4 linked regions of the Homo sapiens genome follow. The protein of the gene in region 4 interacts with the protein of the main gene of each other region in a biochemical or structural test. Each region holds a gene or a part of one and is shown on either strand. Other genes may lie near its edges.

Region 1 (7,029 bases), on a different chromosome or scaffold from region 4:
CCCCAAATGTCAAAAGGGGGTATATGGGGAACAAAAAAGATGGGCTCAAGTTGCTGGAGGCACTACCTCATGAATAGGCTGCAGAACTAAGGGGTTGACCAGGGGGATTCATGCAGATTCCCAGGGCAGTTTTTTTTTTTTTTTAAGACAGAGTTTCGCTCTTGTTGCCCAGGCTGGAGTGCAAGCATGATCTTGGTTCACTGCAACCTCCGCCTCTCAGGTTCAAGTGATTCTCCTGCCTCAGCCTCCTGAGTAGCTAGGATTACAGGCACCTGCCACCATGCTTGGCTAATTTTTTTTTTATTTTTAGCAGAGATGGGGTTTCACCGTGTTGGTCAAGCTGGTCTTGAACTCCTGATCTCAGGTGATCCATCTGCCTTGACCTCCCAAAGTGCTGGGATAATAGGCATGAGCCACCGCACCCGGCCCCCAGGGCACTTTTTGAAGGCACAGGTGTACAGGTCCTCAGATTTTGGACAGGTTCCAATTTGAATAATTATATTCTCTCTCCCTTAGTACCCCCTGCTGTTTCTGGTGGATACAGAATTCTTATTCACTCCCTGCACTAAACTGTTGTGTAGAGTTGCTGTGCAGCTGTTAAACAGCTGCCACATTTCTCTCCATATATAGTCTCTAAAGCATTTTTGGATGAAAGGAATTATATAAACATATTTTATTGTCATGTACTGGTTGCCTTACCACTTAGTTGTAGGTTTTGTGAGGTTGTAACTATTAAATTCAAATCCATATTCCACAGCACATCAACGTTTAATTTCTTCCCCCACCTGCTCTCCAATGCTCTCTAAACAGCAAGGCTCTTACCACAAGGGTCCGTAGACAGAGTGTCCCTGCAGGAGCACGGGGGTCCAAAGCAGCCACAAGATCCCACACTTTAATTTTTCTAAAGATCAAAAAGGGGACAAAAATGTTAGTTAAAAGCAAATGTAAGAGAAGGCAGGGAAGAATAGCAGAAATTCATGGCAATAAATATGGATGGTGAGTATAGTTCAAATGTACGTGATTAACCTACAAATGAGAAACAGGCTAGCTTTAACCAAACTGAAGACAGTTAACAGTAAAGTTATACCATACTTTGGGATCAAGAGGAGATCTTGTACATTAGACCTTTTAATGATATTACACAGACCTAGAAATCTACAACTGTGAAGCATCCTCTTCCTGGGCACTTCTAAGAGTGGCCCAGGTCACATGTACTGAGGGACTGGGGTCCATGTAAGAGCAATGGAGTTTATATAAGCAAGCCCTCATCTTTTGATTTAAATAAGATAAGTGTAGCTCTTCCAAAAATCTTTTAATAGGCCATGTTTCCTCAAGGTACATAGCAGACAAATTCCAAGACAGGTGGGTACAGATCAAAGCCAGGACAATAAGAAAATATTGTCTTGACCAAGCTGGAACATGTCACCACACTCTGAACAATTTCCCAAGGTTGTAACAGTGATGGCTGTCCCAAAGCAGAAGAAGTGAGCAGTCTACACTTCCTGCTGCTTGCATTGGCTAATGAATGTATCAGTGTAGTTAACTCATGAACTAAAATAATGTTGTTAGTTTCTGATATTTAAAAAGCTGCCAAAATCAGGCAGATTGACAAAAAGAAATGATAAGAGTTCTTCCTAAGTGAATAACTATTTTTTTTTCTTTTTTTGAGACGGAGTCTCGCTCTGTTGCCCAGGCTGGAGTGTGGTGGCGCAATCTTGGCTCACTGCAACCTCTGCCTCCCTGGTTCAAGCAATTCTCCTGCCTCAGCCTCCTAAGTAGCTGGGATTACAGGCGCCCGCAACCACACCTGGCTAATTTTTGTACTTTTAGTAGAGACTGGGTTTTGCCATGTTGGCCAGGCTGGTCTCGAACTACTGACCTCAAATGATCCACCTGTCTCGGTCTCCCAAAGTGCTGGGATTAAATGCATGAGCCATTGTGCCCAGACTACTTTTGTTTGAATTTACTCTGTGTTTAGGATTGGTGGACATGGGGTCCATTCACAAAATTAATGGATTCCATAACCACTAGAAATTAGAAGAAAATAAAGATGACTAAACTCATAAATGAAATGCTAGGATGACAAGTGATGACAAGAGAACTGTACTCTTAAAAATTACTCAAAGAGATAAAAAACCCAAGAAATCAAAATTCAAGATCTTACCACACTAAGTCCCCAAATACTGCCCTCTAGTGTTTCTGTTTTGTTAACAGGTTACCCTTTTACATGGGTAGCCTGTTAACACTGGGTTTTTCTTGTTCTTTGCTTTACAGGGCAAAACAGTCAAATACATAACCAAATAACCAAAATATGAATGACAACCATGTGCAAACAAGTATAATAAAATGAATGGGAAGAATATTTCAGGACACTAAACCAAGGAGAGGTAAATACACGGATTAAAGAAATATGGTATCAGATATTTTGTGTAAAATCTATAAGCTTTTAGAAACAAGGAATGGTTATGTTTAACACCATAAACATAAGGAAGGATTAAGACGTAGATTTTCTCTTTTTTACACTCTGTTAGCACACTCACCCATCATAGGCCCCACTGACTATCCTCTTGTTATCAAATCGAATACAACGCACCAATTCCTCATGGCCTTCTAACACTCGTAAACATGCACCACATTCTATGTCCCATAATCTGGAAGAGAAAATTAAGTCAGGTGAATTTTCACGTATTCTTTTCTAAGCCTGGAATGTTATAACAATACACCTCATATGCCTTCTAAAAATTCATAAAATAAAATCAATCACCACCCACACAGATATGTACTGCTTTCAATGTAATTTATTTCCTTTCTGCTATATAACTCACACAGAAATATGTAGGTTTAAGTTCAAATGTAAAATGTATTTTCAAAGCACAGGGCTTTACATAATTCTGTAAACAGGTTCTTCCAGGCATAAAAACGAATTCAATGCACGCAGTTGCCTGAGAAGGAAATGACCAAGCTAAGAAAGCAGTTTCCTGAAGTCACCAAACTGAAAGAGATACAGATTATCAGTGATGTCCTGTTCTCACAAAGCACCTCCCCCTCTGCCACGGCAGACACTTCTTTCACCACTGTCCAGGACAGCTCTTCTCAGAGAATAGAAATGCAAAGTCAGTTCTCAAGAACTTTTGTGTACTAATTATAAAAACTGTACGTTTTCAGAGCAATTCAAGTGATTTCTAGGAATAATTTCCTTAGATATAACAAACAGTAGCTCTTTTTTAATGGCCTTTTCATCCTTTTAATACTTCACTGAAGGGAGAGGATGGATAAATCTTCCAAATTATAATCATATCTATGTCATTCATCTTTGTGAAGGGAAAACCCCAAAAAGGACTTCCAACTGTGAAATCTTCATAATTTCAAAGACAGGTAACTCTCTGGCCAATTATGTAATGCTAAGACAAAAATTACATAATTTCTAGTAAGGAAACAAATCTTTCTTTTCATTTCTTAAAAACAATGGCAAAGAAAAGGCTGTTAGCTGTTTATTAGCACTTTTCAACGGTAGACAGGAGAAATTTAAAAAGAAGGGCAACAAAAGGCTTTGCTGTGCTGCTTCTCTGCCTGGGGCAAACTTCTGACCTGTAAGAAGCTACAGAAAGGAAAAACAGTTGATTATAAACATAACAAAATTGAAGACTTGTATGATCTGTGCATTAATAATGAATGGGAGCATAATATTGATCCCTTATGATACAAGGCACTTGCTGCTCACCTGATAGTGTTGTCAGATGAGCCACTCACTACCAGCCTGTCCCTGTACTGCAAACAGGCAATGCCTCGTTTGTGTCCATTTAAGGTCCTTACAAATTCACAAGTACTTGTGTTCCATACCTGAAAAAGAAAATGGCATTGAGCAGTTGATTTGGTGCTTTTATTGGTAAAATCTATGGCAAATGGAGTCTTAGAGAAGCAGAAAACAGGACTGAACCATTAGAGGGAAGTCTTCTCAAACAAATAAAACAAAGGACAATTTAAATTCATGGTAACAGAGGCTAATTTGCAGTTGGCTGTTACCACATGAGAATTCCTCAGATTGATTTACTCTTCTAGGGTTAGTCTCTTCTCACACTCACCACTATTTATAGGAATAAAATATCTAGGATAAATTGTCACACAACGTCTCACTTATTACACCTTTTCACTTGTAGACTAGTCTCTGAATTAAATATTACATTTTTCTGTAGCAACGTTTAAATATGAAATTGCCCTTGATCAAATTTTCATATGAATTCCCCCATTCTAAGTTGGAAACTTACTGAAAAATGCCTTATTACCTTTATAGTTCTATCCCCAGATGCAGAAACAATGTACTTGTCATCAAAGTCTACAACATTGACAGCAGCTCGGTGTCCGACCAGCACCCTCCGGAGGGTAATGTCAGTTGGGGAGGCCATATCCCATACAGCAATGGAACGATCTTTGGAGCAGGTCACCATCATGCCATTATTGAAACGCAAGTGCAGAACTGCTTCACAATGGTGAATCAACGTGTTTAGCATTTCACCTGTATTTACATCCCACACTCTGGAAGTGATAGATGAGATTTAGATGGTACTCAAGCTACAATCTGTTACCTATATTTGACCATCATGCGCCCTTCCACCCCTTATATTTAGAGAGAGGGCCAGACTGGGAGAGTGGGAGAAGGAAGGGGATGGGATGCTGCCAGTGTGTCCTTAAGACATACTGCTTGAAATATGGGCAAGTTGTGGAGGGCAAGGATGAAGTGGCAGCCACTGTCACCTAATAATTTGGCCCAGACTTGAAGACTGTAAAACTTCTCACATTCAATTTGATACCATTAGTAAGATACATTTTAAATGAGGAATCTGATTAATAACAATAGCATTAGTGCCCATTCCAATGATAGCCCTCAGGAGCCAGAAATGAAATAGGCCAAGATGCTTCTGTCACATACTTAGTAATGTGAATTTGAGTTTGATTACCCTGGATCTCAGGTTTTATCATAAAGGTCAAAGGCCAAGATAACCATGACTCTAATTCTAAGCCCCCATTTCTGTGTTCTGAAGTGGGTAGGGGTTTAAAATAGACCCCCCATTGTAAATATGGGCTTCACAGCAGAGTGTGGGGCCCTTGGATAGCTTGAGAATTTTGTGTGATTATATATTTTGATTATTCTATTTTTGTGTATTTACTTAAGGTTTTATAACATGTTATTTCCTTTTTTCCAGTTTAGCCCCCTTTTATAGAATATCATTTTTTCTTTATCTTATAAATGATGTTAGCACCTGCAGTGTTTTAGATTCTGTGGGGCACTCACTCCACAAGCACCAATAAATGTTAAATGTCAGTAACTACAAGGGCCAAGTTTGCTATGCCTTGCTATGCCTTTAAGTCAAAAGACAAAAAACAGGAACCGTCTTTTCTATTCACAGAGGATAACTTGGAATGGTAAACATTTAACTTCAGAGTATCTAACAATGCACTTAACCGCTTTTTTCCTAGGTCTATTTTTTTTTTAAAGTTACTTTTGATGCATTATGTTTGCTAAATCCTTTAGCTTACGGCAAAATTCCTAACAGAGGTTCCCAGCAGTGCTGCTGGTACCCAGAACTCAAGCTATCCTGGACTCCAGCAGTATAATGGCTGTGTCATCAAATCACTAATGCCTCTGGAAATTGAGGGCCCCTACCTGAGTGAAGCTTGCAATTAAAAACTGCAGGGATGGCAGGGGAGGGGCTGGCAAAGAGAGCACAGCTCACCTGTACATGTTTCAAAGGAGATAATACAGACCTGCACTACAGTTACCACTACCTGAAAGGAAGGCTTCATTGCATTCATATCATTCCCCCGTGAGGTGGTTTTTGTAAGGAATGCAAAGTTTACCATAAGGATAAGAAAAGTTTCTGTAATAGATGATCCTCCAAATTAAAATAGAATGTGTAGTTTCTTCAATGTGCGAAAATGTAAACTTACCTCAAGCATTTCTAAATCAAGTTTTCTAGTTCTAGACTGACAGAAATGATGGGGACCTGGTGGTTTATTCTTCTTTAGTTTCAGAACTGTGCCGATATATACAAAATTACTATCTATGACAAAGAACAGAGCAGAGCTGATATTTCAGAGTTCAAAAAAGCATTTGAAATTTTCTACCTGACCGTGGAATCCGATGATCCTGTTATGATCACTCTCTCATCATACTGGAGACAGAGGACTGAACCTGTATGGCCTGTGAGAATTCGCTTGCATTCCAATGTGTTTTTATCCCAGATCTAGGATGGCAAATAAGATCCTTTTGATCAATGTGATGATGGGGTGCTGTGGAGACTTGTTGGTCCTATTACGTGTCTGATCCCCCAAAATAATCAAAGCCCAGAGTAGTGTGGAATGCATTTTCTATAGGTATAGCTAAGCGCGCGCGCGCGCACACGCGCACACACACACACACACACACACACACACACACACACACATATAGCTTCAGTACTAATGCAAACTTTTATCCTTTTCATTAAGGAACAGGGTAGTCTATAATTATGTGATGGCCAAAAGAGTAACAGCCCATTCAGTGCATTTCAAGAAGAGAATTTAACCCTAGGACTACCCGTTTGTATAGTGGGGAAGCTGATGTCTGTCCTTTAAGGAAATGATTTTGGCTTTGGGACTGGAAACAATCTAAAATCTTCACTTACTTTCTAGAAATAATGCTTAGAGTTTATGCTTTAGACTGCGCTATGAATGTGGTCACTCTTGCTCCCTCTGCTACCTTTCTACAACTGAATAGACCTCACCTTGATTGTGTTGTCTCGAAGGCCGCTTACTATTTTCTGATCATCATACTGTAAACAGTAAACTCCTTTGCTTGTTTCACTTCGGCAGTGAATTCTCTGTAAACTATGTCTTCCACATCTCCAATTAGATTCTATTGTCTGAGAAGAAGGAATGGGAAAGAGGCAGTGTTAGGAAACACCTAGAATCAAACTCTTTTTAGGCTTTAATGACAATCAATGGCTCAATGCTTTACTCTATGGGATATACACAACTTAGGGAAAACTAAAA
Region 2 (7,029 bases), on a different chromosome or scaffold from region 4:
ATAAACGACCGCAGCCTCACTTCCTTTTCTGGCCCTGTGGAGATGCTGCTCTGCCCACCTGAGTCGGCTTCTGTCTTCTTGCCAGGCCCTCGAAAGTGTACCTCCTTTCCAGATCCTGCTAAAGCTCCATTCACCCCAAGAAGCCTCCCTTCCCCAGCGTTCGGGAGAGATCATGCGGACAGGGAACCCAGCTCAGATGCCACATGATGCCCTGGAAAAATGGCAGCCACTGTTATCCATGCAGTTCGGTGCTTGGATTTAGACTCACTTAATGCATTTCTGAATGCTCCCTGGATCACTGTGATCAGAGAGTAAGCACACGAAGGGCAGGGACCCTTTTTTCCTGGTATCCCTGACAGAGCTCGGGCCCAGGCTCTATAAATCCCTAGAGAAGTGACTGAACGGAGCAGAGGCTTTAAGGCTTCCAAGCACACAGATAAGCTGTGGAAAGCTTTGCCTTGTCCCATAAAGGGACAAGTACAGGTCCGTGCTGCTTCATAGAAGGGATCGTTAATACTCTGCCTTCTAACAGCCAGTACACACACTGCCTCCTCCACCCCAACGAGCATCCCGCAGGGCCCCAGGCAGCGCTTCCTGGCCCTCCTCACAGCCAAGTGTACACAGAACATGATGATATCACAAGGTACCCTGGGTGGCTTCCAGAAGGTAGCTGACCCACATCCTGCCCAGCCATGTTGGGGACCCAGCACTGAGGAGATCAGTATTGGAGAATCCCCATAATCCATGCAAAAAGTGGGGACCCACAGCCAAGACGCTGACAGAGCCAGGATCTGAACCCAGGTCTGTGTGACTGAGTATCGTGTTTCCCGCCCCCACTCCCAAAACATGCTGCCAGGTGGGAGCACTCGGTTATCTCCTCCTCCTCTTCCTTTGTATTTAACAAAGGTCTCATTGAAAATATCAGCCTATCTAAACGGTACTGGGAAGTGGTTTGTGCTGACCCCTGGGCTGGAGGTCTTAGGGAGTCCCGACACAATGTGGAATGGTGAGGCCCGCGTGGCAGGAGAACCACAAGAACAGGGGAAGCAGGTTGTGGTGGGGCTCGCTTGTTCACTGCCCTCCCTCCCTGGGAAACACTCAATGTGGGGTTCTCTGTCTAACAAGGAAGACTTATAAGTGTTTTGTCCTCCAAAGAAGTGTTTTTCAACCAAGCACAGTGGCTCATGCCTGAAATCCCAGCACTTTGGGAGGCCAAGGCAGGAGGACTGCTTGAGCCCAGGAGTTCCAGACCAGCCTGGGCAACATAGAAAGACCTCATCTCTACAAAAATAAAAAAATTAGCCAGGCGTGGTGTCTCACGCCTGTAGTCCCAGCTACTCAGGAGGCTGAAGTGGGAGGACTCCTTGAGCCTGGGAGTTCAAGGCTACAGTGAGCCCTGATCGAGCCACTGCACTCCAGTCTGGGTGACAGAGGGAGACCCTGTCTCAAAAAACAAACAACAAAAAATCAATAAAGAAGTGTTTTCCCCTTCCTGCTTCAAAAAGGTTTAGACTGTGGTGAACAATGAGAGCCTAAGGAACACCAAGGCCTCCCCCTGAGTCCTCACCACAGAGAAGCCACAGGCACAATGGAAAAAGCATGAGGTTGGGTTCCGAACAGACGCAGGTTCCAATCCTAGCCTCTTTGCTTGCGAGCTCAGGTCTGTGGGTGAGTCACAGAGACTGTGCTTCAGTCTCCTCAACTATAAAATGGGAACAAAGACAACAGTACTTCCTTTCAGAGTTGTGAGGGCTGGAGAGAAAGCACGTAAATACCTAGTTTGATGCTGGCGCATAGCAGGTTCTCAGTAAATGATGCCTCTGATTATCAGGCCACTTCTCTGACTGAGGATACCCATGCTTAGGGGCTTTTTCATGTAACTTCTATTGTGATAACTACAACATTCCTTCTTCTGCAGACAAGATGCAGTGCATGGAGTGTCAGGAAAGTGCACACTGTTGTTACGTGGAGTAAAACCATCAGAGTCAAGGAACCAACACCACCATAGCCCAGCTGCTTCTTTTAAGAGGCTGTGAACAGAGGGGTTCCCAACAGAGAACATACACGCTCATCTTCTGAACTTGGACAATGATCAAAGACTTCTCCTCAGCACCCAAAGCAGCCCTAGAGATTTCCCAAACTTGGGGAGAACCCACGGGGAAGGAAGGTAGAGAGCTTCCTGGCCTGGGCCGGGCTCACGGGTAGGCATCATTGAGGACCTGCAGGCACTCCACTCCTCCTGCTCCCCTCCACCTCTACTCCACCACTAAGCGCTGTTAATTCCACCCCTTAAATCTCTCTCTCTCTTTTTTTTTTTCTCAGACAGAGTTTCGCTCTTGTTGCCCAGGCTGGAGTGCAGTAGCACGATCTCGACTCACTGCAACCTCCACCTCCTGGGTTCAAGTAATTCTCCTGCCTCAGCCTCCTGAGTAGTTGGTATTACAGGCATGCGCCACCATGCCTGGCTAATTTTGTATTTTTAGTAGAGACGGGGTTTCTCCACGTTGGTCAGGCTGGTCTCGAACTCCCAACCTCAGGTGATCCACCTGCCTCTGCTCCCAAAGTGCTGGGATTACAGGCATGAGCCACTGCACCAGGCTAAATATCTCTTAAGTCTGCCCACCTCTCCCCATCTCTCACCTAGACGACTCCAAAACATTCAGACCTGGTCTGCCTGCATCACTGGGACGGAGCCAGTGACACTGTAGTAGCAGTCACTGAGAGCTGGTTGTTAACTACTCAGGAATCAGGCCGGAGCGGGCTATTAAACTACTGGTGGCTTGAAGTCAGCCCTGGTGGGAGTAGCTACTCCATGAGAACTGCTGCACACTATGGATCAAGGCATTTCTTCCGAGAGCTGATTTTTTCCCAGCACGCTGCCCACTGCTTGGGCCCTCCCAATCTGTCCCCATGGGCACAGCGCCTCCCTCTAACATCGTTCCACTGCTCCTCCATCAAAACAAAACCTCCTCGGCTGAAACTGCCCAAAAAACACCACAGGATCTGACTTGCACCGTCCACCCTCAGCCACCCAGGCACTTGTGCCCCATCCTCCCTTCCGGCCACGCTGGCCTTCAGTCTTGCCCACTTGCCACACCTGCCCTCCACAGAGGCCCCTCAGGAGCCTCTCCCTTGGCCTGGAACTCTCCTCCCACCTTCTCTGTCAAGCTGACTTCTACTAGGGCCTCAGTTCAAGTGTCACTTCCTTGGGGAACCTCCTCTGACACTGACTGATCCCACCCCAACGGAAGGTCTCAGTGCACTGGGTCCTTCTCCCAACTCACACTTTACCATACTTAGGAGCTTACATTTATAATTAGTTGACTAATGGCTCCTTCCCTTCTCCAAAGGTCTGCTTTAATTACCAATGTACACATAATAGACATTCGATAAATATTTGTGGACTGGCAGAGTGGATGATTTGGGGCACCTAGCACATATACAACGTCAGGCACTTGCTACAGGAGAACTGAAGGAACTCCAAAGGCCAGACCCAGCCCTGGCTGACCAGGAATGCAGGGTCCTGACAAGACTTACTCCACACGCAGACAGGAAGGGCGGCACAGGAACCAGCCCAGAGGAACTCACCGGGAGAACCAGTTGCCACAGAACAAAGCCATCCCAGACGCATATGAGGAGGAGATGGCCTAGAGTTGGTCCTGGAGGAATGTGGAGGAGGGGGAGGCCTGTCCGGCAAGAGGGCTCAGCGCTCAAAACAGAGGCAGCCAAGGGGAGGAATGATGGAGAGGCAGGTGCAGACAGACTGTGTGGGGTTCAGCCGGCAGGAGGAGGAAGCTGGCTTTTGGCTTTTTAAAAATAAATAACAGGCCAGGCGCCTGTTAGTGACTCATGCCTGTAATCCCAACACTTTGGGAGGCCAAGGTGGGCAGATCACTTGAGGTCAAGAGCTTGAGAACAGCCTGGCCAGCATGGTGAAACCCCGTGTCTACTAAAAATATAAAAACTAGCCAGGCATGGTGGCAGGTGCCTGTAATCCCAGCTACTTGGGAAGCTGAGACAGGAGAATCGCTTGAACACAGGAGGCAGAGGTTGCAGTGAGCCGAGATCAAGCCACTGCACTCCAGCCTGGGCAACAGAGCGTGACTCCGTTGCAAAAAAAAAAAAAAAAAAAATTAGCCACACGTGGCCGGGTGCGGTGGCTCACGCCTGTAATCCCAGCACTTTGGGAGGCCGAGCAGGCGGATCACAAGGTCAGGAGATTGAGACCGTCCTGGCTAACACAGTGAAACCCCATCTCTACTAAAAATACAAAAAAAAAATTAGTCGGGGGTGGTGGCAGGCGCCAGCAGTCCCAGCTACTTGGGAGGCTGAGGCAGGAGAATGGCATGAACCCGGGAGGCGGAGCTTGCAGTGACCCGAGATCACACCACTGCACTCCAGCTTGGGCGACAGAGCGAGACCCCGTCTCAAAAAAAAAAAAAAAAAAAAAAAATTAGCCGGGTGTGATGGCGCTGCCTGTAATCCCAGCTACTCAGGAGGCTGAGGCAGGAGAATCGCTTGAACCCAGGAGATAGAGGCTGCAGTGACCCGAGATCGCACCTGTCTCAGCTGAGAGTGAGACTGTCTCAAAAAAAAAAAAACAAGAAAACATACGGGAAGTGCTTCAGGGCATTGGTCTGGGAAAAGATTTTATGGATAAGACCTCAAAAGTACAGTTAACAGAGGCAAAAGTAGACAAATGAGATTACATCAAACTAAAAAGCTTCTGCACAGCAAAAGAAAAAACAGAATAAACCTATGGAACCTATGGAGACAACTTATGGAATGGGAGAAATTATTTGCAAACTATCCATCCAACAAGGGATTAATATCAAGAATATGCAAGGAACTCAAACAATTCAACAGCAAAAAAATAAATAATCCAATTTTTCAAATGGGCAAATGATTTGAACAGGAATTTCTCAGACATACAGATGGCCAACAAGTATATGATAAAATGTTCAATATCACTAATCATCAGACAAATGCAAATCAAAACCACAATGAGATATCATCTCACCACAGTTAAAATGGCTATTATCAGAAAGACAAAAAGTAACAAATGAAGGCAAGGATGTGGAGAAAGCGGAACTCTATACACTATTGGTGGGAATGTAAATTAGCACAGCCATTATGGAAAATAGTATGGAGGTTCCTTGAGAAACTACAAACAAGGCTAGCGCAGTGGCTCACACCTGTAATTTCAGCAGGTTGGGAGGCTGAGGCAGGCGGATCACCTGAGGTCAGGAATTCGAGACCATCCTGACCAACATGGTAAAACCCCGTCTCTGCTGAAAACATAAAAATTAGCCGGGTATGGTGGCATGTACCTGTAATCCCAGCTACTTGGAGGCTGAAGCAGGAGAACTGCTTGATCCCGGGAGGCGGAGGTTGCAGTGAGCTGAGATCATGCCACTGCACTCCAGCCTGGTTGACAGAGCAAGACTCCGTCTCAAAAAAAAAAGAAAAACTATAAATAGAACTACCATATGATCCAGCAATCCCACTACTGGGTATCTATCCAAAGGAAAGGAAATCAGTTTATCAAAGAGATATGGGCACCCTCACGTTTACTGCAGCACTATTCACAATAGCCAAAATATGTAATCAACCTAAATGTCCATCAATGAACAAATGAACAAAGAAAATGTGGTACACAGACACAATGTACTCTTATTCAGCCATAAAAAAGAATGAAATCCTGCCATCTGTGGCAACATGGATGAGCTTGGAGGGCATTACATTAAGGGAATTAAGCCAGGCCCAGGGAGATAAATACCACATGTTCTCACTCATCCGTGGGAGCTAATAAAAAACTGATCTCAGTTGGGTAAAGTCTGTTGGCTGACACCTGTAATCCCAGCACTTTGAGAGGCTGAGGTGGGAGGATCACTTGTGTCCAGGAATTCGAGACCAGCCTGGGCAACAGACAGACCTCCTATCTACAAAAAATCAAAAATTAGCCGGGCATGGCAACGCACACCTGTAGTCCCAGCTACTCAGGAGGCCGAGGCAGAAGGATCATTTGAGCCCAGGAGGTCAAGGCTACAGTGAGCCATGATGGCACCACTGCACTCAGCCTGGATGACAGATTGAGACCCTATCTCCAAAGAAATTAAAAATTAAAAAAAAAAAAATGCCAGGCACAGTGGCTCATGCCTGTAATCCCAGTACTTTGGGAGGCCGAGGCAGGCAGATCGCCTGAAGTCAGGAGTTTGAGACCAGACTGGCCAACATGGTAAAACCCTGTCTCTACTAAAAATACAAAAATTAGCCAGGCGTGGTGGTGCACGGCTATAATCCCAGCTACTTGGGAGGCTGAGGCTGGAGAATCGCTTGAACCTGGGAGACACCAGTTGCAGCGAGCCAAGATTGTGCCACTGCACTCCAGCTTGGGCAACAGAGCAAGAATCCATCTCAAAAAACAAAACAAACAAACAAAAAAAAACTGATCTCGTCCAGGCTCGGTAGTTCCCACCTGTAATCCCAGCACTTTGGGAGGCTGGGATGGCGGGGGGGGGGGGGGGCGCGCCGGCGGGGATCACCTAAGTTCAGGAGTTCGAGACCAGCCTGGCCAACATGGTGAAACCCCGTCTCTATTAAAAATACAAAAATTAGCCAGGTGTGGTGGCAGGCACCTGTAATCTCAGCAACTCGGGAGGCTGGGGCAGGAGAATCACTTGAACCTGGGAGGCAGAGGTTGCAGTGAGCCAAGATCGCGCCACTGCACTCCAGCCTGGGCGACAAGAGCAAAACTCCGTCTCAAAACAACAACAACAACAACAACAAACTAATCTCGCAGAAGTAGAAAGTAGAATAGTGGTCACCAGAGGCAGGAAAGGGTGGTGGGGGTGGGGGGAGTTGTGGAGGGAAATAGGGAGAGACTGGTTAATGGGTACAAAATTACGGTTAGGTGGAATAAGTTACAGTATTCTAAAGAACAACAGGGTGACTACAGTGAATAAAACTTTATTGTATATTTCAGGCCGGACGTAGTGGCTCACGCTTGTAATCCAAGCACTTTGGGTG
Region 3 (6,900 bases), on a different chromosome or scaffold from region 4:
GGTGGAGGAAATAAATAGTATCTGAAATTTAGTTGGCATTTAAATTCATTCAGTTGACTCAATCTCTCTCAGCTAATAGTTCAAATATACATGTTGACAATTCCATGAGCAGCCATGAAAGCTTTATATAAGGTATATACTGACTTGATCCATATCTAATTTTATAAATAAACATACCCACAGTATGTACATTTCATATACCTAAACTAGATTTATTTCTTCCTTCCTCCCTTCCTCCCTTCCTTTCTTTCTTTCTGTTCTGGGGTACATGTGCAGAACTTGGATATTTGTTACAAAATGTGGAGGTCTGACACAGAGTCTTGCTTGGTCACCCAGGCTGGAGTGCAGTGGTGCAACCTCGGCTCACTGCAACCTCCACCTCCCAGGTTCAAGCGATTCTCCTGCCTCAGCCTCCTGAGTAGCTGAGATTACAGGTGTCTGCCACCACACCTGGCTAATATCCGTATTTTTAGTAGAGACGGTTTCACCATGTTGGCCAGCCTGGTCTCGAACTCCTGAACTTCAGTGATCCACCTGCCTTGGCCTCCCAAAGTGCTGGGATTACAAGCGTGAGCCAACGTGCCTGGCCTAGATTTCTTTTTGTTAAAATCAGTTTTATTGAGGTATGGTTTATATGCAGTACAATTTGCCCTATTTAGTTTTATAGCTCTATGAATTTTGACAATGTACATAAGTCATATACCGGTACCACAGTCAAGATACAGAATATTTCTGTCACCCTCAACAGTTCCTTGTCTTCCTTTGTAGTCAACCCCCTCCCCTCATTTCCAGCCCCTAGAACTGATAGGATTTCTGTGCCTTCTGTTTTGCCTTTTCCATTATGTCACATATAAATGGAATCATACAGAGTCATGGAGTCAGTCTTATTTTGTTCAGCCTAATGCTTTTAGGTTCATCCATGTTGTCACATATATCAGAAATTCAGACCTTTTTTGTTGCTGAGTAGCATTCCATTATATGGATATACTATACCATTCCATTACATGGATTTATCCATTCACACATTGATGGACATTATTTGGGTTTTCAATATTTGGTGAATGATAAAACTGCTATATATATTTGCATAGAAGTTTTAAAATAGACACATATCTTCATTTCTCTTGGGTAAATGCCTAGGAATGGGATTACTGGATCATGTGATAAGTGTATGTTTATAGAAACTGCTAAACTATCTTCCGAAGTGGCTAAACTTTTGCATTCCCACCAGCAATATATGAGAGTTGTAGTCGCTCCATGTTCTCATCAACACTTGGTATTATTGGTGGTTTTTGTTTTGTTTTGTTGTGGTGGTGTCACATTAATTTGCATTTCCCTATTGAGTATTGATGTTGAGATATTTTCATGTACTTTTTTTGCCATCTGTATGACTTCTTTAGTGAAGTGTCTATTCAGATTTGACCATTTAAAAAACTGGATTGTTTTCCTATTTTTGAGTTGTGAAAGTGCTTTATGTAGTCTGGATAGCAGTGTGTGGACTTATTTTAATCCTCATAATCTGTGTGGTAGATACTATTAGGCTAAATGATAGATAAATAAGTTATGATGCAGGATTGTTAAGTAATTGCCCAAGATTACATAGCTAATAGGTAGCAGAGCTGGGATTGAAACCCAAGTAGATTGACTAGAACCTGTGTCAAACTGTTTGCCTTTTTTTTTCTCTTTGATCCTCTCATATGCAGAGATTGACTTATTGGGGCTGTAAATAGAACAAGGATCCAGTTCCTGTAGGTGATAGAATAATGCTAATAGGGATACCCCTGGGCAGAGGGATAATATATTGTAATGGCAGCTCTGGAGTCATCTCCTTAGGAACAGCTAAGATATTTGTTTCTGTTGAAGAGGTGTAATTATTTTCCCTTTAATTCTCTTCACATTACTGGTGGCCAGAGTACTTCCTTTAAATTATGTTTGGAATATTTGCCATTATTAAGTAATGAGGTGCATTATATAAATGGATTTTCTCAATAGCAGAAGCTTATCCTTTTAGATACCTGTTCTACATAAAACATCTCACACACTTGATGTTACACACTTTGGCTTTCGAAGGCCTGTCTTAAACTAATGCTGACTTGGAGACACTTAGTGTATGGTAATATACTTAGGGAATATTACAACTTACTGACCTTATATAATGGCTTCATATCTGAATACTTTTAAAGTTATGTTTATTTTTAGTTTTGTAAGGTGGGTTTTTTTAATGTCATTATCAGCTATTTCACTTTTTCTGACATCCTTTTATAATACTGTTGCCCTCTTTTACCTGTTACAGTTTTTATTTCTAATTAGCCAAAAGAAGATAATCAAATTGTTAGGTTTACATTCATGTTATCTAAAATAAATTTCAGATATGGAAAATTACCTGGGGGGAACTTTCCAGGGAACAAGTGAATCTCCCGTGACTGCTCAGCGGACCTTGTTTCTTGGTGCATGGGCTCTGAATAGTCATTTTGTGTAAGTGAACTAAAGTAAGCTAAATATGACATTTGACAGGAGAAAACATGGTCTATATTTCTTTTTAATAAATTTTTAATTAACAGTTTGTAAAACCATGGAGATTATTTTTCAGTAAAAGGATAAACCAAGCAATCTTCAGTGTAAGGAATAAATAGACAGCAGGCAGAAAGTTGGTTCACAATCATTGCTGTTTTGCAGCATTTTGTAAAGTTCCTAAGTCAGTGACAGCTTGTGCTCTCAACTATGCCTCTGGTAAGCCAGAATAAACTCCCAACTAATTAACTAAAGGGAGAAAACCTTGCTAAATCCTATTTACTTTTTGTAAGATACCAGGACGAAGGCTATCTATTGAGTTGCATTTATCATTTCAAGCGCTTTGGAAGTACTTAGTGCTTTCAAGCCATTTTGATTAATTTAAGCTCTTAGAATAAATTAATAAGTATTCACCCAGAGGCCAGAATAAGTAGGTGTAGTAATATTTCAGTGGCTTGGGCACTTTGTCAGATGTATTCTGACTTGGAAGGCAGAGCTTCACTGGCCACAGTTGTCCCCTTAGGTTGGCCTTGCCACAATTGCAGTGGAGCTGTAGCAGGGTGCCTGGCACAAGAGGCTTGAAATACATGTAGAAAATTTTGCTTGAAAGGTAAGTCAAACTGTAGCTATCATTTGGAAGTAGTAGAGTTATGAACTATGATCGTACCAATACTTTTTTAAAAGGGTTTTATCAAGCTTGCAGTTTATTTAAAATCATTTTGCTTTGTTGGACTTTAAATTCCTAACATTGGAGTGTGGGTTTTTAAAAATTCTGTAAACCAGTTTAATTCACACTTATTTTTCCACTGAACTTTGAATTTTCTAGTGGATTTTATCTGTTTAGTGAACTTACAGATCTGCATCTGGCTTTGTAGTTTGCTAGCCTTTCCAGACTACATAGCAATATATCTCTTTCATATGAGGGTTAATGAGTAGCCAGATTACACTCACCAGTCCATTGTTACATTAAGAGCCACAGAGTTTGCTATCTCCCTTCCATCCCCTTTCATACTTTTTTCCTTTCACAGTTTTATTTGATATAGTAAAGCAACTTTTAAAAATTGAGATTTTTATATTTTAAAACAATATATAGTTTTTAATTTTGCTCCCTTGTAGGTTCTTACTCTATTTTATTGTTAGTTTTAAATTATGGCAATTAATATGAGCTTAGTAATGGTCTAATCAAGGTAGATCTTGCTCCTTGCCTCTTCATCCCCACTTTCCTATACCGTTTTTACCTGCAGATTTGCATGTTTGACCTAGCAGAATAATTGGGTCCACAGCAACATGGGCGTGCCTCCCTTAGAAACACTTGGTTTCATGTATGACTCATAAGCTGAAGCACAGACACCACTTCCCCAATCTACAGGAGCCATTTTAACAGCTAAAACTTGTCGGATTGCTTTTTATTTTCAAGCTCAAAAGACGATAGAGAAAGAATACTTGAAGGTAACTTGTTACAATTTTGTATGTTTGCTTCTGGCTTTTTCTTGAGCTGATAAACAGAGGGTGGTTCTTACCTGTTGAAGAACATGGCTGAATGTGTTCTTTAACCCTCTGATAAAATGTGTGTGGTCAGTCACATGCCTGATTGAACTTAATTGCTAGGGGGAAACAAAGCACTGAAATTCTGGAAAGTTTTAGATCTTCTTGCTAAAGCATTTTGTATGTCTTTGTGATTTTTTTTCTATGTAATTTAAGAATAAAAGAGGTTTTTTGTTTGTTTATTTGTTTTTAAGTACCACAAAGCAAACTAAGGTCAAATTTTAATTTAAAAAACCTAATTGTATTTTTTGGGGTAGTTGAAGTTACAGTTAAGTAAACCGTATTATTCCTGTGTGATATAGATGTTAAATATCCAGGGGCAGTGGCTTTGTTTTGGCATTTTAGCTAAGGGTGAAGTTTTGGGACAACTCAGCCATAGGTGTTGCTCATTGACTGTTATTTATTTATTTTTTTCTCCCTCTCTGTTTTTTAAAGTTAATGAAATTATATTAAATGTTTCATTTTGGAAACCCAATGGAAATTTAAATGAATTGTTATTTAGATAATAAGTAAAAATGAATATTAGATTATTTAGATAACAAGTAAAAGTGAATATTAAATAGAGGAAGAAAGACTAGAATGATTCATTTACTATTAGAAAAAAATGAAGTTTTATAATTCACACTGAAAACTTGTTCTGAGTAACAACCTTAGAAGTAAAGCTGTCTTCTAAGGAAACGTAGTTATTTCAATTTTGTGTAAAAAGAAAAAGTGATGAGTATTGGCCTTCCTTTTGTATTACTGTTCTTAAAATTTGCCTGCCTTGAATTAAAAACCTTCTGTAAATGAAAAGATTGCTCAGTCTTTTCCTGAAGTACTTGTCATTGTAGTTATGAGATTTTGGCTGGCAAGTATACATCCTACTGTGCCTTAAAGTTCTAGGTGCTCTGTAAAGATGAGTGCAGTAGTATTTTATTTCTGAAACATATTTATGAAGATAAAATTGGAATATGCAGTGATTCCAAAAAATAAAGTTTTTGGATATAAAACTTGCCAAATCATTTCTTGTTGACCAAAATGATATTTAGCTAGTTCTTTGAGAATTTGCTATGCACTTACTAAGTGCTTGAAGGCCTGTCAGATTAAAGGGAAGAGACAAAGGCAATCAGTTATTATTTCTTACTCTTTTGTAAGGATTGTTGATATTAACAGATCTCAATTTTGCGGTCTTACAAGAAAGACACAGCGGACATTTTACCAATTCAGCTGAGCCATTTGCTATCATCTTTGTTTGCATATTGCTGGTTTAGTCAGCCTTTGAGTAAGCAAAAGCTGTATTTACTTCTAGTCTGGTCTGTGTGAAAAATCTAATGAAGACTTTTCTATTTTTTTTTTTAACTTTTTTAAGGTGGTGATCCATAAGAGAAAAATCAAGAGGCACACAAATAAGCGGCATAATTAAGATCTTATTTATTAAAGAGAAGTAGAGGAATTTGGTTTCTTAAATTTAAGAAGCTGGTACAGTTAAAGTAGTATAGATATTGTTTATGTATTTTCTTACGTGATAGAGACTGAAGTGGAGTTTCAAGGAGAAGGGAGAAGGGGGGGTAAAAAGAAGAGAACCAAGAAAAGACCAGAACAATTTATTAAGTATTTCCCTCTCCACGTTTTTCCTTCCATAAGATTGAATGTAAGTTTGAACTGACCCATCAGAATTAAATTTAGAATTAGTGATTTATAGAACTTTAGTGCTGAAAGTGACTGAAGATTGTCCAACTGCCTCACTTTTATAGATGAAGAAACAGTGGCCCACAGAGGTCCTGTGATTTGCTTGAGGTCATGCAGTACCTAATGGCAGGGCTTCGCAGTCTGGAACTGCTTGTGCCAGTCACAAGTGATGCTTTGTTTGAAATGCTCTATATTTCCTTAAGAGTAAATAAAACCTTAATTAAGATGTTTGGTGATAATCTTGGTGATAAGTTGCAACCAAATGGATCAACCAATGATTTTGAAAATGTAGTTTTCTTTTTCATCAGAAAGATGATGCATTCATTTTATTTCTACAACAACTTTTTGTTTTTCACTGTTAGAATTTTTTTGTTCATGACTGCTTATTTTAAGATGGCTTTAGATGGAAATATGAAGAGGTGGGAATTAAATTTGAGCTTCTAGATACAAAGACAGTTTTATTTCTGCTTTAGTTTTAGCTCATATATATATATATATATATATATATATATATATTTTTTTTTTTTTTTTTTTTTTTTTTTTTTTTTTGAGACGGAGTTTCACTCTTGTTGCCCATGCTGGAGTGCAATGGTGCAATCTCGGCTCACTGCAACTTCCGTCTCCCGGGTTCAAGCAATTCTCCTGCCTCAGCCTCCCAAGTAGCTGGGATTACAGGCATGCGCCACCACGCCCAGCTAATTTTGTATTTTTAGTAGAGACAGGGTTTCTCCATGTTGGTTAGGCTGGTCCTGAACTCCCGACCTTGGGTGATCCGCTCACCTCGGCCTCCCAAAGTCCTGTGATTACAGGCACAAGCCACCGTGCCCATCCTTGCCTCATATTCTTTTAGGAGGGCAAATATTGTTTAATGTGATACCTTGTTATACTAAAATATGTGTATGTGTAAAACTTTGCATGTGACTTTACAAAATCCAGAGGTGTCTAAGCTTTAACATTACACTTATCTTAAATTTGACCTTATTATAAGATAGTAATCTCATTTTATTTATCTTTGTCACATCTTCTCCTCCTCCTTTGAAATAAGAGAATTGTTTGGTATATACAAAATCTTTTGTCTGTTAACTTTTTGGTGTGTTTTATTGGGGTGGTTGGAAATTCTCTAGGTCTGAAATTCAGATTTTTAATGGTTTATGCATAACTGCTGAATCTCCTAAA
Region 4 (7,029 bases):
TGAAAAGACTACATGATTTAAGCTCCATGAATTTCTGGATTTCTGTCTTGTTTGGCACTGTGTGCCTTGTCCTTAGAACTGTGTCTGGCACATAGAAAGGACTCAACATATATTCAAATAAATCACTGTTAAAGAAATAAAACCCTACTTATGTTAATCAGCTTGATTTAATCATTTCACAATGCATATGTATATCAAAACATCATCTTGTGTACCATAAACATATATAATTTCTGTCAACTGTACTATACTAAAGCTGGAGGTCAAAAAAAAGGAAGGAAAAAATAATAAAAAAATAAAAATCACACTATACGAAGATGGAAGAGCTTCTATAAACAAGCAATGCTTCCCCTACTCCACCCCTCCTCATCTCCAATCCTGCTTTTTAAAGGCTGACTTTTTAACACTCTTTTTCTTTTTAGTTTACCTGGTGGTTCTTTTCATATCTCCAAGATATGCTTCTGTCTTTTTTCTTGATGTAGGACGTTGTGTTCCTTCTAGGAAGGAACAGAGGAGGATTCAGCTCATACTACCACCACCTCCCCTTCTTCTCCCTCCAAATATAGTTATAATTAGTGAGACCTTGAATCAATCTAGCATTTAAATATTAAACTTTACATTCAATTTTTGTCTCAAGTTTTCCATAAATTTCTTTGGAGAAATATGAATGCGAGAGACTGAATAATAATGAAAAAATGCAACACCAGAAACATCTGGATTTGAGAAAGAACCTACACTGAGACCAAAAATTATAACTTATTATCGACAAAATGGGCAGTTCCTCATATTATCATACTGATAATCAAGAATTGGCTTGGTACTTACTCACATGCATTTTTCTTAAGTTGACCTATCTTGATATGGCAAGAAAATCTGAAGTCTTCCAATTAATACAATTACATCAAAGAAACACATAATTTTAGAGAGAGATGCTCATTTTGTCAAACCTCATTTTTTTTACAGAACAAAAATAAGACTCAGAGAAGTTAATTAACTTGCTCAGAGCCACACAGTTAATTGGCAGCACTGTCTCTTGATATCTTGTTCGGTATTTACTTATTCAGCAAACACACCAGGTGCTGTGCAAATAAAAAGTAAATAAGATGAACTCCTTGCCCTCAAGATGTTTCTTTTCTAGGACCCACAGGAATTCAGGAGAACACAGAATGGGGGCACATAACTCTTTATGGAAAGGGGAGGGAGAAAACAGAAAGGCAAGTGAGAGAAATGGTGATGCTCAAACCAGGCCTAAGGGTTTAGAAGTTAGCAGGATGGCTAGGAAAGAAAAGGCACTTCTCATACAGGGAGGGCATAAGCAAAGGCATTCAAAGTCAGAAACTGTGGATAGGAAACTGAAAGTCGGTGTGGAGGATTTGAGATTAGGGGATGGTTGGGGAACACCGGAGGGAGTAAGGGGGTGAGGTGTGCGAGAATCAGCTTGTGAAGACAACTGGGATTCACTGCAGAGACATGATCCGATTTACACTTTAGAAAGCTGACCATTATGCGAAATGAACGATGGGTTAGAAGCAGGAGACAATGCAAAAATAAAATCTAGAAATTCAACGAGGAAGGGATGGATTCTGGAGATGAGGAGGCTGCCTTGATAGAACTTGGTGACTGACTGAAGAAGAAAGCTGAATGTATAAGAAGGGCTTCTAGATTTCTGGCATGAGAAATCTACTGAATGGACCCTAACAGGCTAACAACCGCATTCCCTAATGTGCTGGGGATACCAATCTGTGCAAAGGGGTGGGGATCAAGGATGATGAGAAATTTAATATTGGCATATAGATGTGAAGATACTTAAGTGCCTCAGCAATAAAATCATTTCTGTAGCTTGCCTTGAATGACTGGACTCCTACAGTTCAACAGATACTCAGTAAATATAGCACAATTACTCCAAAAGTCATCTATTTCAACACAGGATTGAACTACCTCTCTAAGCAACTTGGATTGACTCCTATTTGGCTATTACAGAAGACTTTCTAAGAGAAATGGGATACTTCCCCACCCATCACAAAAAAAGAATTGTAACTGCAGGGTAAATGATTATGTAATGGTTTAAAATAGGAAATATTTTTAAAGTTTCTAAGGATTGCTTTTTAAATTTGGTTAAATGTCTTAAATGGGAAATCGAGTAAATATATAAAGAGACACCATAAAGACATTATCTCAAATTAACGCTATGATATGGTATGAGAGTGAGTAAATGCATTTGACTATTGTTGGACTGCTGTGCTTTTGATTTTAATTTCCCAGGTACTTATATTTGCTTGATCGCAACTGACTTCTAAAGTGTTTTTTCATAATGTGGTGAAAAGTCCATTCTTACCAGTTTAGCAAAAATATGATAATCCATTATGAAATGTCTGCCGAAAGGTTCTATCCAAGGGCAATCTCTCTTACTTCTTTCATTATGACCCTCCATGAGATGAGATATACAATTTATCTCATTGTATTTCTCAACCATGAGATATATGATTTGTCCTTTTATTTATAATTCTCATTCACTTTCTAGATTATTCTATCTTCACATTCAAGTTGATAACAAAGTTTAAGTCTTAGTTTTATAGAGGACTCTTCCCCCTAAATCTTTATGCTTTCATTATCCTTTGCTTTGACCAATCTTTCAAAAGACTCAGGTTTAAAATCACATACACATATACAAACGATGCTTAACCTATTCACCTTATCATGTATTAGCAGTATAATAAATGAATGCATTAAATGAATAGGGTAGAGAAATGGCTATATTTTTGGTTCATTTTAAGCCATCTCCTCTGAAAAGTAGTTCCCCAGGTTTTTTGCTTGGTTTGAAATTAGCAGTATGAACACACTAAAAATTTTTTTCCTATTTCCTAGATTGTATATTCAGTTTTCAGTTTTGATTTTACGTAAATCAATTGCTGATTTAAGTACTTTCCTGACTATCCAACTGAGCAAAAAATTAAGTGTAATTTAATTTTAATTCTTAACATTGCTTTCAACTTCTAATTTCCTCTACATAAATAGCCACCCACACATGCTTCTTCCATCATTCCACATCATCATCATTTTAATTTTATAAATCATGAAGGTTCTTGTATTATATGCAGATGCTATAAATTGTAAGGTATTCTCCTCTGGCCTCATTACCAAGTCCATACCCCATTTAAAAGAAAAAGACACTGAAGGTTATAGATCAAGTCTTAACAGTCAAACACCAATACATGTTTAAGCCTTACAAAATAAGCCTATACTTAAGAACTGGTAGACAAAGAGGTTCTTCAAATATCAATAAAACATGATTTGGGAATTTGTGTTAAAACATCCAAAAATAGTTATTTTCTCATTCCTAAAATTCTTGTCATGGAAGACATATTTTCTAAGACAATTAAGTAATCTATTTTCACTATTTAAATGAACTGCAGGCTTGGGCTTAGAACCAATAAATAGGTTGATTAGGGAGTCTGTCATCACTTTTATGTTTTCTTTTTTACATACTTGTTATATGGTAGAATTGACGTCTGGGATAAAGAGGGATAGGTGTGCCCTAACACTGAAATATGGTATAGTATTTTCAGTCCAAATGACATGATAAATAATAAAAATAATTTTTTGAAATAACTGCTTTTAACAAATAAAAGTCATTAAAAACAAATTGCTTTTTAAAATGGGACATTATAGAGGTATGCTCAACTTTATGCAGGTCTTATACTTTCTTTAGTTCAAGTTAGTGAAAAGTAAATCCTAGAAATATTAGTGAGCCTCATTTATCAAAAAGGTTCACCTTGGCCAAGCTAGGTGGCTCACGCCTGTAATCCCGGCACTTTGGGAGGCTGAGGCGGGTGGATCACTTGAGGTCAGGAGTTTGAGACCAGCCTGGCCAACAGAGCAAAATCCCATCTCTACTGAAAAAAAATAAAAAATAAAAAATAAATTACAAAAAAAAGGTTCATCTCAAAGAAAAATCTAATAGCTTTATTTTCCAATATGAAATGCATGAATTGTCCATACATTTCTACTAGTAGCGTAAGGATTATAACAAAGTTAGAGCCTTGTTTGTTTTGTTTATGCTTCTCTTCATGCCCAGAAGCTGCAGACTGAACTCGTAAGGGAACACACAAAAATTTATCTTTTTCTGGAAGCCATCTCATGGGGAAGTCACAGGCAGAGTGCCTGGATTATTTTATTATTTTAACAAACACTGCCGCTATTAATCTTCGGAGTACTTTTCAACAATGACGGCTTTACAGTGCAATTGTTATAGATGTTAACATTTAATTTCTTTCTCATTTTGCTGGCAACAACAAAAAATATTATATATACATATTTGTAACTAATATATATTAAATATAATTATATTAGTTACAAATATGTATTTATACATATATCATTATATTTAATATACATATTAGTTACAAATATGTATATATATAACCTTTTTTGTTGTTGCCATATCTGTATATGTAACTAATATATATCAGTATATTTAATATACACATTAGTTACATATATATGTAACTAACTTTTAACTTAATTTTTAAACTTGAATGTTTGTTGTGAGTGATGTGAGGGGAGATCAGGGTCAGAACCAGAACTAAGTGGCAGCAAAGCAGAATGAACTGAAGTGAGCAGCGCTCAATAAAATGGTTGTTTTCCCACAGGACTGCATTAGGGTTCCCAGGGGGCACAATGACACTAGGACAGGGAGTATTGGCATTTTGCTCTTTTCTAGTCTAAATGGTATATTTCATTTAAAAAACTGTGTCCACAAAAAAATAAATGGTTCAATTCAGAAATTCAAGGCCAACTTTTAAAAAATGCTACAACTGAAAAATAATGAACAAACTGTGCTAGGATGAGGCCCCAGCTTCTATAGTGTTGGAAAAATCATTAAAGTATGAAAGTGGAAAGTACAGTAAACCCTGCTAACTGCCTGCTTGTTCCTGAGGTTTGCCATCTAGTAACTTTTAACAGTCACAGATTTATGGGTGATAGGTGTTTAATTCTAGAGGTAACATAACAAAATAACATATTTTGTTTTAACTTTTTGGTTGATTAATTTAGATAAGTGTTAACAATTCTTAGATTACCAAGCAGTGCTTGTAGCATTGTTTCTTTTTTGGAGGTATTAGTATTTGATATTACAGTTTCAATGGAGTGTACAGAAATTCTAACTTCACCAAAAAATTACATTTTTCAATTTTACAAGCACCTTTTATCATTCCAATTACTTTATAATCTTGCTCTGGTGCCTCTAAAACTTTGAAACTAAAAGGCATTTTTTTTCTAGTTCATAAATGCCTCTTTCAGAATGAAATGTTCCCCTTTTGGAAGGCGCCAGATACTTTTTAATAAATTATTTGTTCTAGTAAACTTCAAGTGGTCTTTAGATAAGATTTCCATAATATCTAAGACACAAGGACTATTTTGTGCTCCTTTCTTTCCAGAAGGCAAAGCAAAATAATGTAATTTTTGTTCCTTATAGAAGATGGCTGTCCATTTAAAAAAAAATTTTGCAACAACTTCATATCATTCATTCATTTAACAGTTAATGATTGCTTACTATGTACCAACAAGTACAATGCTAAGCATCAGATATTTCTTTCGTCAGTATTGATTAGATATTATTTATTTTTAGTTAAACTAGAGTATTTGATTCTCTCAAACAGCTTTTTCTTTATTTCATTTTTTATAATTTTGGCTATTTTAAAGAATAAATTCTTTTCTAAAGCTTAAGCAGTCAAAATTTGTCACAGTTTAAACTAATAGGATCCATAGATGAACTCAAGTCTGTTGATATCTACTGAAGGCATGGGTCAAAATAAAAGCTATTTTAAGGTTTCTGGATTAATGGTGAAAGATGAATGAAAAATAATAAGGCAATTTGTAATGGATAATTAAACCAAATATATCATTATTCTAATTTCAAAAACAGGCAATAAATTAAAGCAGATGAAATTTGTATTACTGATAATTAATTCTGTTTGTTACTACAGAAAATATGACACAATAAAAATTGTTTTCTTTTTAAAATGTAAAATGCACTATTTTTATTATTAGTACTCTAAATTAAACAAATATTTTCATCCATAATCTATCTTCTGAGATTTCTATAATCTTTAACAAATCACATCTTATGTGACTCTTATTCTGTACAGAACTGTCAGGCTTTAAATTATTTGAGGTGTAGCAATGCAATTTGCACAACTTATTTTCTAAACTGTTGGCTGATCTTCAAGGCCAGGTCAACAACCTCCGGAAATGTAAAAGACAGTATATTAATTTGCACCCAGGAACAACCCCTAATACAGCAGAGACCAAAGGTATGAAGCAATTTCATCATCATTAAAAGAATGTTACTACTTTTTTCTCTTTTTTTCTTCTAAAAGTGAGGCACTGGATACTAATTAATGAAATACTACAAAGATAAAAGGCTTGGTTATGTTACCAGAACTATTAACTGTCCAAATTATGTGGTTTCAAATATTAATCTTTTTTGATTAAAAAAATTCACAGTCAAGGAGCCAAACTGACTTGCAGGACTATGCCAAAACGTTCAAACCTTTCTCCCTGAGGCTGAGTACCTTCAGTTCTTCCAAACTGTCTGTCTCCAAAGTAGTGACAAAATTCAAAGAGAGATCATATGCTCTTGATGGTTTATTGCTGACCTCTAAGAACACTACAAGTGAGTTCAGTATTTATGGGAGGTGCAAGAGTGCAAATGAGAACTAATTCCCAAAAAGCAGAGTAAATTGCTCCAGTATGGTCTACTGTTTACCAAGACGTAGTCATCAATTAATGCTGATTAGACACAAATGTAGATGTAGGAGCAGAACATCTTAACATATCCTCTAGCACTAACTTCTATTTTTCCTTCTCCTTCTCTTCTAATATAACAATCCCACTACTGTAGACAATTCACCTTGTAAACAGAAAACCAACAGACCAACCGAATAAAACAAACTTCCTACTAAAAGTAAGAAAATTAATGAGAAATTTTGCATAGACATCCATTCCTGTTAATGTGATTTCTGATCAATC

The links.
Region 1: the proteins of NFKB1 (region 4) and BTRC form a complex in vitro, tested with the Homo sapiens proteins (3 studies listed by BioGRID, with this or other methods).
Region 2: of the proteins of NFKB1 (region 4) and IKBKB, one has a biochemical effect on the other in vitro, tested with the Homo sapiens proteins (4 studies listed by BioGRID and IntAct).
Region 3: the proteins of NFKB1 (region 4) and ELF1 form a complex in vitro, tested with the Homo sapiens proteins (2 studies listed by BioGRID).

The regions. Positions count from the first base shown.
Region 1 is NC_000010.11:101,532,165-101,539,193, reverse strand, and holds part of BTRC (F-box/WD repeat-containing protein 1A), read right to left. Parts: intron 6,900-7,029; coding exon 6,762-6,899; intron 6,243-6,761; coding exon 6,124-6,242; intron 4,534-6,123; coding exon 4,284-4,533; intron 3,841-4,283; coding exon 3,722-3,840; intron 2,652-3,721; coding exon 2,541-2,651; intron 902-2,540; coding exon 823-901; intron 1-822. UniProt on the Homo sapiens protein: Substrate recognition component of a SCF (SKP1-CUL1-F-box protein) E3 ubiquitin-protein ligase complex which mediates the ubiquitination and subsequent proteasomal degradation of target proteins. Recognizes and binds to phosphorylated target proteins.
Region 2 is NC_000008.11:42,274,285-42,281,313, reverse strand, and holds part of IKBKB (inhibitor of nuclear factor kappa-B kinase subunit beta), read right to left. Parts: intron 1-7,029.
Region 3 is NC_000013.11:41,016,288-41,023,187, reverse strand, and holds the start of ELF1 (ETS-related transcription factor Elf-1), read left to right. Parts: upstream 1-3,871; 5' UTR 3,872-3,960; intron 3,961-6,900.
Region 4 is NC_000004.12:102,504,348-102,511,376, reverse strand, and holds part of NFKB1 (nuclear factor NF-kappa-B p105 subunit), read right to left. Parts: intron 498-7,029; exon of another isoform or gene 445-497; coding exon of another isoform or gene 428-444; intron 1-427.